Linked DNA regions of Homo sapiens: region 2 is linked to region 1. The links come from fine-mapping of genetic effects on gene expression. Tissue or cell type: fibroblasts. Region 1 holds a variant in brackets; the other region holds the start of a gene. All regions are shown on one strand. Distances are from middle to middle.

Region 1 (5,582 bases):
AATCACAGTTCCACCACCTGCCTAAAGCAGTGCCTGCTGCCTGGGCTCCCCCATACCCTGGCCTGCTTGCTGGATCAGAGTCCCTGGTAGAAAGCCCCTCCTTGGTCAGATCTGAGACTCCTACCCCTTTTGACTACTGTCTTGGATTCCATGGTGGGGTAAGTCTCTTCATCTAGGGGCCTTTTCCCTGCGCCTGGCCTCCCTGTTCTGGCTTCCACTGTATTTCTAGTGACTGGGATTCCTGGGATCTAGACACATTTTGTTCCAAAGGACCCCTGCTACAATGCTCAAAAATCAGTCCCAGTTGTTTCATTTACAATACACATTTTTGTTAGGATTAAATGCTGTAATTCTTATGAGACAATTAACATGGTTCCTATCACATAATAAGCACTCAATTAATATTAGCTACTATAAGTTCTGTTATAATTTTCATCGTCATCATCATCATCATGATCATTTCTATCAGGATCTCCATCTTAATTTGAGAAAGGCTTTTTCTGCAATAATCAGGAACAGGACAAGTCCCAGAGACCATCTGGCTGCTAATGGACTGGAGACAACATACCTAACAAGTGTTCAAATTGGAGCCCATAGCAAACATTAATGATGGTCATCTTTTACTGAGAGCTCTGTGTCAAGAACTTCCCACATAGTATCTTAATTAACCCCCATAACAACCAAATTGTGTGGGAGTTATAACTCCCATTTTATTGATGAGAAAACGCAGGATTAGTGAATCCCATGCCTAACAAAAACGATAGTGAAACTGATATCAGATCCAGCCCTTTTTAAACACAAAACTCCATTCTTTTTCTCTTGAACATGTTACTTCTCTACAAACAGCCTGAATCCTGAAAGCAGAGCTTACTTTCTGGGCTTCCAGCTAATCAAGTCTGGTCTTATGGCCTGCGTGTTTCCTGCCTAGCCATATCATTAGGTAATTCCCGAAACTTTCCTCTTGTATCCTTACCTTTTGTTTTCTTTCTTCTCCTCTTCTAATCTGGCAGCCACACTCCTACTTCTATTTGTTCTTAGCCACTCTGGTTCCAATTTGCACCATCAGCCCTAAAGATCCAAACCAAGCTTAAATCCTCCATTTAGTCTGCTTAGACTATTATAGCCCACTTTCAAGTGATTTAACCCTCTCCTTCAAATTCCTTTTACTCTCTTGTTATCTGCATTTAGTGCCACACAATTATTATTCTTAGTTATTGCCTAATTATTTCAAATGTGCATTCATTCAACTACTACATGTTTAAATACATATTATAAATCAGAAACTGAGTTAAGCAACATATATGGAGATATATAGACAAGTATGCTATTACAAAACCCTTAAGGTAATATTAGTTGAGCAAATAAGAAATATAGACAAATAGTTATAGTAGTGTTTTGAGTTTAAAAAGTACCATGAGAAATAAAGACAGCTAAAAGAATTCAGACAAGGGAAGGCTTACTTCTACCACGAAGGGAATGAGGAAGAAATAATGATTCATTTAACTGAGGTAGAAGATTCTGATACCGAGAGAGAGAGCACTCTGGCAGGCACTGCCTGACACAGGCGTGGAGTCTGGTGAGGGCACTATCAAGGACTAATGAGCCACTGTCGTCTAACTGTGCTTTAGAGTGTCTGGAGGAGAACTGTGGGATAGTGTACATGGAGGAAGTCCTTAAATACCATGTAATGGTATCACTGGTTAAAAGAGGGGGTCACTGGAAATTTTTGAAATGATATAGTCAGAACTGTTGTTTTTGCCGGGTGCAGTGGCTCACACCTGTAATCCCAACATTTTGGGAGGCTGAAGTAGGTGGTTTGCTTGAGCCGAGTAGTTCGATACCAGCCTGGGCAACACAGCAAAACCCTGTCTCTACAAAAGATACAAAAATGAGCTGAGCATGGTGTTCATGCCTGTGGTCCCAGCTACTCGAGAGGCTGAGGTGCGAGGATCACCCGACGAGGCTGCAGTGAGCCATCATGGCGCTGCTGCACTCCAGCCTGGGCAACAAGTGAGACTTTGTCTCAAAACAGAACAAAACAAAATTGTTGTTTTGCATCCCTCCCCCTAATTAACAGAAAGTCTATTAAAGTTTAAAATCATGTTTTCATATTTCATTCACATTTCCTTAGAACTTGGCACAACTGTGGACACAAATAAATATTTAATAAATAACCAGTGACTGATAAGAAGCAGTTACATATTATAGCTCTTTTATATATTTGCTTATCAATTTTCATGTTCATTTTAATTCTAACTAAAAAGAAACTAGAATTTTTTAAATTAAAAAGTGTAGAGTCTAATTAGGTGGCATGATATTTAAGCAAAACAGCCCTTTGCCTCTGAATCAGTCCACTGACCTACAGATACCATTACAGGTGTTAACTTCAGCTTCAAAAATATTTGTTATAAGATGGTAAACTCCAGATAAAACATTCCTTAAAACATGACTTTAGTATTCATTATATTACCTCATTTTTTCTCCAGTATGGATTTTTAAAATTTGTTTGCAGAAATTTTTTTCCCCAAATCTTACCAAGTATCTGGAAAATCTTGTCTTAGCCTTTATCTTTGGTTTTAAAAGTGTGATTCAAATCATTTTACATACTCACTTTTAACGTTATGAAAAAGCTATCAGGGACAGGAGCCAAGATGGCCGAATAGGAACAGCTCCGGTCTACAGCTCCCAGCGTGAGCGAC[G/A]CAGAAGATGGTGATTTCTGCATTTCCATCTGAGGTACCGGGTTCATCTCACTAGGGAGTGCCAGATAGTGGGTGCAGGTCAGTGGGTGCGCGCACCGTGCGCGAGCCGAAGCAGGGCGAGGCATTGCCCCACTTGGGAAGCGCAAGGGGTCAGGGAGTTCCCTTTCCGAGTCAAAGAAAGGGGTGACGGACGCACCTGGAAAATCGGGTCACTCCCACCCGAATACTGCGCTTTTCCGACTGGCTTAAAAAATGGGGCACCACAAGATTATATCCCGCACCTGGCTCGGAGGGTCCTACGCCCACGGAGTCTCGCTGATTGCTAGCACAGCAGTTTGAGATCAAACTGCAAGGTGGCAGCGAGGCTGGGGGAGGGGCGCCCGCCATTGCCCAGGCTTGCTTAGGTAAACAAAGCAGCCAGGAAGCTCCAACTGGGTGGAGCCCACCACAGCTCAAGGAGGCCTGCCTGCCTCTGTAGGCTCCACCTCTGGGGGCAGGGCACACACAAACAAAAAGACAGCAGTAACCCCTGCAGACTTAAATGTCCCTGTCTGACAGCTTTGAAGAGAGCAGTGGTTCTCCCAGCACGCAGCTGGAGATCTGAGAATGGGCAGACTGCCTCCTCAAGTGGGTCCCTGACCCCTGACCCCCGAGCAGCCTAACTGGGAGGCACCCCCCAGCAGGGGCACACTGACACCTCACACAGCAGGGTATTCCAACAGACCTGCAGCTGAGGGTCCTGTCTGTTAGAAGGAAAACTAACAAACAGAAAGGACATCCACACCAAAAACCCATCTGTACATCACCATCATCAAAGACCAAAAGTAGATAAAACCACAAAGATGGGGAAAAAACAGAACAGAAAAACTGGAAACTCTAAAAAGCAGAGCACCTCTCCTCCTCCAAAGGAACGCAGTTCCTCAGCAGCAACGGAACAAAGCTGGATGGAGAATGACTTTGACGAGCTGAGAGAAGAAGGCTTCAGACGATCAAATTACTCTGTGCTACGGGAGGACATTCAAACCAAAGGCAAAGAAGTTGAAAACTTTGAAAAAAATTCAGAAGAATCTATAACTAGAATAACCAATACAGAGAAGTGCTTAAAGGAGCTGATGGAGCTGAAAACCAAGGCTCGAGAACTATGTGAAGAATGCAGAAGCCTCAGGAGCTGATGTGATCAACTGGAAGAAAGGGTATCAGTGATGGAAGATGAAATGAATGAAATGAAGTGAGAAGGGAAGTTTAGAGAAAAAAGAATAAAAAGAAATGAGCAAAGCCTCCAAGAAATATGGGACTATGTGAAAAGACCAAATCTACGTCTGATTGGTGTACCTGAAAGTGATGGGGAGAGTGGAACCAAGTTGGAAAACACTCTGCAGGATATTATCCAGGAGAACTTCCCCAATTTAGCAAGGCAGGCCAATGTTCAAATTCAGGAAATACAGAGAACGCCACAAAGATACTCCTCGAGAAGAGCAACTCCAAGACACATAATTGTCAGATTGACCAAAGTTGAAATGAAGGAAAAAATGTTAAGGGCAGCCAGAGAGAAAGGTCGGGTTATCCACAAAGGGAAGCCCATCAGACTAACAGCAGATCTCTTGACAGAAACACTATCAGCCAGAAGAGAGTGGGGACCAATAATCAACATTCTTAAAGAAAAGAATTTTCAACCCAGAATTTCATATCCAGCCAAACTAAGCTTCATAAGTGAAGGAGAAATAAAATCCTTTACAGACAAGCAAACGCTGAGAGATTTTTGTCACCACCAGGCCTGCCCTAAAAGAGCTCCTGAAGGAAGCGCTAAACATGGAAAGGAACAACAGGTACCAGCCGCTGCAAAATCATGCCAAAATGTGAAGACCATCAAGACTAGGAAGAAACTGCATCAACTAACAAGCAAAATAACCAGCTAACATCATAATGACAGGATCAAATTCACACATCACAATATTAACTTTAAATGTAAATGGACTAAATGCTCCAATTAAAAGACACAGACTGGCAAATTGGATAAAGAGTCAAGACCCATCAGTGTGCTGTATTCAGGAAACCCATCTCACATGCAGAGACACACACAGGCTCAAAATAAAAGGATGGAGGAAGATCTACCAGCAAATGAAAAACAAAAAAAGGCAGGGGTTGCAATCATAGTCTCTGATAAAACAGACTTTAAACCAACAAAGATCAAAAGAGACAAAGAAGGCCATTACATAATGGTAAAGGGATCAATTCAACAAGAAGAGTTAACTATCCTAAATATATATGCACCCAATACAGGAGCACCAAGATTCATAAAGCAAGTCCTGAGTGACCTACAAAGAGACTTAGACTCCCACACATTAATAATGGGAGACTTTAACACCCCAATGTCAACATTAGACAGATCAATGAGACAGAAAGTCAACAAGGATACCCAGGAATTGAACTCAGCTCTGCACCAAGTGGACCTAATAGACATCTACAGAACTCTCCACCCCAAATCAACAGAATATACATTTTTTTCAGCACCACACCACACCTATTCCAAAATTGACCACATACTTGGAAGTAAAGCTCTCCTCAACAAATGTAAAAGAACAGAAATTATAACAAACTATCTCTCAGACCACAGTGTAATCAAACTAGAACTCAGGATTAAGAATCTCACTCAAAACCGCTCAACTACATGGAAACTGAACAACCTGCTCCTGAATGACTACTGGGTACATAACGAAATGAAGGCAGAAATAAAGATGTTCTTTGAAACCAACGAGAACAAAGACACAACATACCAGAATCTCTGGGACACATTCAAAGCAGTGTGTAGAGGGAAATTTATAGCGCTAAATGCCCACAAGAGAAAGCAGGAAAGACCTGAAATTGACACCCTAACATCACAAT
Region 2 (5,582 bases), 750 kb after region 1:
TTCTTTGTTCAATGTGCCAAGACCTGGACACCTCACCATCAGAACACTTAACCCAGAAACGAGATGAATGTGTTCATTCTTTTTTTTTTGAGTTCGATTGCACAGTGTGGTAAATATAATTAACAATACAGTATTGCACTTTTCAAAATACCGAAGAGATAAAATTTCAAATGTTTTCACCACAAAAATTGTTAAGTATTTGAGGTGATGGATGTGGGAACTAGCTTGATTTAATTATTCCACATTGTTATTCATAAATTATAAGATCACTTTGTTCCCCATAAATGTATACAATTATAAATTGCCAATTTACAATTTAAAAAAAGAGAATTAGTTGAAAAATGTTTGGATAAATAATAAAGTGATGAATCAAGAATAATTTTTTTTTAAGAGACGAGGTCTCACTATGTTGCCCAGGCTGGTCTTGAAATCCTGGGCTTAAGAAATTCTCCTGCCTTGCCTCCCAAGTGCTGGGATTACAGGTGTGAGCCAAGAATAATATTTTTAATAAAACAATGTTATGTAAAGCAACATTTCCTATATCCCTAACCTTGCTAGATATATATTTTATATTCAGGAATATCTCTAGAGTTTTTATTTTAGCAAAGTGCTGAATAATTTATTTGAAAAATCTGAATGTTAAGGGATTCATTAATTCATTGAATAATTACTTATAGTAGGTACTGTGTGGCAAGTACCATTCTAAAGGCACTAGCACTGGCAGGCCATCGACCAGCAGAACAATGCGGAGTTTGGCCAGGGCAGTCGGAGGACAGCCTGGGCCGCTGAGCGGCTCAACTCCAGGGGAAAACCAACTCCCTTCTGGCTCCCCCATCTGCTGAGAGCTACTTCCACTCAATAAAACCGTGCACTCATTCTCTAAGCCCACATGTGATACAATTCTTCTGGTACACCAAGGCAAGAACCTGGGATACAGAAAGTCTTCTGTCCTTGTGACAAGGTAGAGGGTCTAATTGAGCTGGTTAACACAAGTGCCTATAGACAGCAAAACTAAAAAAGCACACAGTAGCACAGCCCACTGGTGCTTCAGGAGCAGTAAACATCCACCCCTAGACACTGGCGTGGGGTTGGAGCCCCAAAACCTGCCTGTCTGTATGCTCCCCTAGAGGTGTGAGCAGTGGGGCACTGAAGAAGCGACCCACTCCCACTGCCGCATGCCCTACGAAGGGGACAAGGGAACCTTTCCCGTTTCATTGTTAGAGGTCAAAGCTTTTTCCATGGCACATGCCCAGTCTACATAACTTGCAGTTTTGGCTCTGTTATACCTACAGGGTAACTGGCCATTTTGTTATCAACAGAGTAGGGCCAGTTTGGGCTGGCTCTGAGGTTATAATATACGGCCAGCTGAGTTTTGACAGGGATGCCAAGGCAATTCCATGGGGATAGGCAAGCTGGAACGACTGGAAATCCATAAGGAAAAAAAAGAACCTTTATTCTTACCTCATACTGATGCAGGAATTTTTGCTCCTTAGCTCAGCTAAAATCCAGGTTCTTGTCTCATGACCAGGAACAATTAGGCATGTGAATACATTGCAAGGTGAAGAGTGGCATTTATTAAAAGCTCTTAGCAAAAAAACAAGGAGGGTCCTGCCAACAGGCTCCCAGCTCACAGACTGAATAACAGGCCAACACACACAAGCTGAAGACTTCTTGCTCATCCCTGCTGCATAAGGCTGAATTCCCTCTGGCTGCACCCCACTCTCCTGGTGCAGTGGGCCCCCAAGTCCCTTGTGGGCATGCCCAGACAAGACCCTGGGCAGGCTTCCTCAGCTGCACAAAAGCTTGTGAGGCAGGTCAGAGATTCTCCAGGGACCCTCCCTTATCTGCCTCCAGCATCTATCGATACTATAAAGAATAATTCATTTTAAATATAATGAAGACCAACAATTATAAAACTTCCAGAAGGTAACAAATGAGGAAATCTTATAATCTTGAATTTAGCAAAAATGTCTTAAGTAGGACAAAAAAGGTATGAACTATGTAAAAGAAAAAAATGGATAAATTACATCAAAATTGAAAACTTCAGTGCTTCAAAAGACACTTAAAATGAAGAGGCAAGCCACAGACAGGTAGAAAACATTTCAAAACGTATAGCTAATAAAGAACATGGTATGAAACATATAAAGAACTCAATAATATATAAAGAACTCTTAGATAAAAAGTCAAGCTAGCTAATAAATAAATGGTCAAAAGATTTGAATACACACTTCACAAAGAAGAGATCCTCCTGCCTTGGGCTAAAAAAGGGCTGGGGTTACAGGCAGGAGCCCAGGCCCAGCCTTGTCAGTTGATTTTCGGTGACCCTTCAGAGGGCAAAGGGGAAGTTTTCTCCTGTTCCCTACAACCGACAGGCCCATCAATTGGTGAATGGATAAATAAACTGTGGCTTACCCATATGATAGACTACCATTCAACAATAACACAAATGAATTACTAATTAAACACAATAGTATGAATCTCAAAGCATTGTGCTAAGTTAAAAAAGCCAGACATCACTTAGATATGGTTCCGTTTGTATGCATTCTAAAAAAGGCCTAAAGCACATCACTGTTGCCAGGCACCCGGGAATACGGGAATACGTAGCGGAGCGGGCACGAGGGGGGTGGGGGTGGGGGTAGGGGTGGGGGGGAGGGTAGCTGCCTGCATAGCTCTGCCCAGTTTTATGCCGGTTTCAGCCCGGCGCACAACGCATTTTTTTTTTTGATACATAGTCTCGCTCTGTCGCCCAGGCTGGAGTGCAGTGGCGCAATCTCGGCTCACTGCAAACTCCGCCTCCCGGGTTCCCGCCATTCTCCCACCTCAGCCTCCCGAGTAGCTGGGACTACAGGCGCCCGCCACCACGCCCAGCTAATTTTGTTTTTGTATTTTTAGTAGAGACGGGGTTTCACCGTGTTAGCCAGAATGGTCTCGATCTCCTGACGTCGTGATCCGCCCGCCTCGGCCCCCCAAAGTGCTGGGATTACAGGCGTGAATCACCGCGCCCGGCCGCGGCGCACAACGCTTAACAAACTTTGGCTTCCGTTATCCCTCCCTCTGGAAATGCGTGTGTCAGGGTGCCTCCTAGTGGAACTGCAGCGTTTCCTCGAAAGCCATTCCGTCCAGGAGTTAAGGTGGCCGCTGCCCGCCCGGGGACACTTTCTCAGTCCAGCCCATCGGCCTTTACCCCAGCCAACGACCTGTTGCCTTTGGCCGCCTGCCAAGTCACTCTCATTACAGTTTCCTTTTCCTTTTCGATTCCGCCCCCTAAAAACAACAACAAACATTATGTTTCGTTTTCCACTGGAGCTGCAGGCCCCGCCCCCAAACAGCACGTGGGGGGCGTGGCGTCCCGGCAGGGGCTCAGTAGCTGAGGCTGCGGTTCCCCGACGCCACGCAGCTGCGCGCAGCTGGTTCCCGCTCTGCAGCGCAACGCCTGAGGCAGTGGGCGCGCTCAGTCCCGGGACCAGGCGTTCTCTCCTCTCGCCTCTGGGCCTGGGACCCCGCAAAGCGGCGATGGAGCGGAGGTCGCGGAGGAAGTCGCGGCGCAACGGGCGCTCGACCGCGGGCAAGGCCGCCGCGACCCAGCCCGCGAAGTCTCCGGGCGCACAGCTCTGGCTCTTTCCCAGCGCCGCGGGCCTCCACCGCGCGCTGCTCCGGAGGGTGGAGGTGACGCGCCAACTCTGCTGCTCGCCGGGGCGCCTCGCGGTCTTGGAACGCGGCGGGGCGGGCGTCCAGGTTCACCAGCTGCTCGCCGGGAGCGGCGGCGCCCGGACGCCGAGTGAGTGGGGCTGGTGTGTGAGGGCTGTGAGGGCTGTGAGGGGTGAGGGCTGAGGGCTGTGAGGGGCGGGCAGCCGGGGGTCCGCGCCTGAGGGAGGAGAGCCCAGAAGGCCGCAGACGCGCGCCTGGCTCGGATAGTTTCGCCGACGGCGCACCTGAGCTGTCTTTTATCCCGGTCAGTGTCAGGCGCGGGGTGAGCGGGATACTGGCGACCAGCGGATCCTCCGCTCAGCAAAGTGGCCGGTGCGGGGCATGCGGGCACCGTCTTCATCCTTTTAGCCAGTCTGGCTTTCTCATAGGTTTCTGTTCAAGTTTGTACCCCCGTCCCCCGCCCGCCGCATCTCCCACTGTCTCGTTTTGAGAAAGTAGTCACTGCTCCAACTTTGGGAGTCGTTCTCAGTGATGGGATTTTACCTTGGCCTTCAGTTGCACTTCTCCCACATTCTCATCGAAGTGGGGGAAATAGTTGCCCGCGTTCTTTAAAATTTTGCCCATCTGTGGAGTGAAGAAATTGGTATCTTGCTGCGAGTTTATTTTGCGTTTAACTACTGGACGTTTGCGTTCCTTTTTCGGTAAATTGCCTGTTTATCTTTGCCTGGCTTTTAGAAATTTGAGTTGTTAAATCTTTTTCTTATTTGTATGGAAGAGGTATTTGAATATTGAATAAGAATAGCCTTTTGCACGTCGTACATGTAATATTTTTCTCACTTTGCCTTTTGTGCATGTTGTTTTTAGTGCATTTTTTGGGGGGTAGTCTGTCAATTTTTTTGTCTGTTAAGGCTTATGGGTTTTATGTTAGGCTGGAAAGCTATCCACACTCCCAGTGTTTTAAAAAATGTACTCATTTTTGTAGTAATTTTAAGGTTTTTTTTTTTAAGTTAAAATTTTTCGTACGCTTGGAATTTTCAGTACTGAGGTAGGAGGGGAGCTAGATTTATTTGCTTTTCCAAAGGCTTAGCCTATGTCCCAATACCATTTCTTAATACTTCCTTTTTTTCAACTGATTTGAAATGCTGAGACTCTTTAAAAGAAACCGTTAGTCTGCTGGACCATTTCTTATTACCAAACTGTTTTGGTTCCCCTAGCATTTGTAATATGGTTTGTGCTTTGAGATTTTTACACGAATAGATTCTATTTCATTAGCACTGAAGATGAAACAAGGTCCCAAAACTATCCTAGTTTAATTTTTGTGAACAAATTAAATAAGAGTACATTTTTACTAGTGGACAGTTTAATCTCTTAACTTCAGAAAGGGCCAAATGTGCACTAATGCCAATGAAAAATGTTTTCAACAGCATCCTCTTTAAAGATAGTCCCCCAAACATAATCCTTCCTTTTAAGAATATAGGCATTGGTTTCTATTGGTAACTGTCGGGAAGTGTTTATTACTGTTATTTGCTTTTTGGGAGAAAGGAATGTGTTTCAGAATACACTATTTGTTCTTGAAATGAGATTATGTTGTCTTAAAGTTATATTTTCTTATAGACCTTTTCATCTTTGTCATTTCAAATTTCGTTCGTCTTAATAAACAAGAACCTAAAAGCAGATATTTAATTGGATATTTTAAGGGTATGTTCCATTTACAACAAAGTATACATCAATATTTTTTCTAATTAAAAAAAATCTATGTCAAGACCGTTGTCTTTCCTGATTTGCTTTGCCTACCTGAATTTTCTTAAGAGAAGTTCATGGTAAGTCAAAGCTTGTCTAGTTGAAATTTTTCCCAGATGTTTTAAGTGTATTATAATGAAGTTAGTAATACAGTGGGTAATAATCAAAGTGACAATAGTTCCTGGTTGGATTTG

Alleles and levels. Positions count from the first base shown, and alleles are read on the strand shown. Sizes are in standard deviations (SD) of each study's normalised expression.
With allele G in place of A in region 1, the expression in fibroblasts of the gene that starts at base 3,363 in region 2 is lower (moderate effect, 0.66 SD a copy in GTEx).

Evidence for each region. PIP is the estimated chance that this variant, and not a neighbour inherited with it, causes the effect.
Region 2: HERC5 starts here. The variant in region 1 is fine-mapped to the expression of HERC5 in fibroblasts (GTEx, PIP above 0.99).

Annotation. Positions count from the first base shown.
Region 1 is chr4:87,707,738-87,713,319 of GRCh38, forward strand. The region is part of intron 2 of DMP1-AS1 (DMP1 and DSPP antisense RNA 1); the gene reads right to left. Among named protein-coding and RNA genes, the nearest start is that of DMP1-AS1, 22 kb to the right of the region's middle. RefSeq lists an enhancer at 2,926-3,528. The variant G/A (reference allele first, on the strand shown) is at 2,700.
Region 2 is chr4:88,453,757-88,459,338 of GRCh38, forward strand. HERC5 (HECT and RLD domain containing E3 ubiquitin protein ligase 5) reads left to right here and starts at 3,363. Exons shown (of 23, transcript NM_016323.4): 1 at 3,363-3,778. The coding sequence starts at 3,514. All of the region lies in intron 1 of LOC102723458 (a long non-coding RNA gene), which reads right to left. RefSeq lists an enhancer at 2,993-3,422.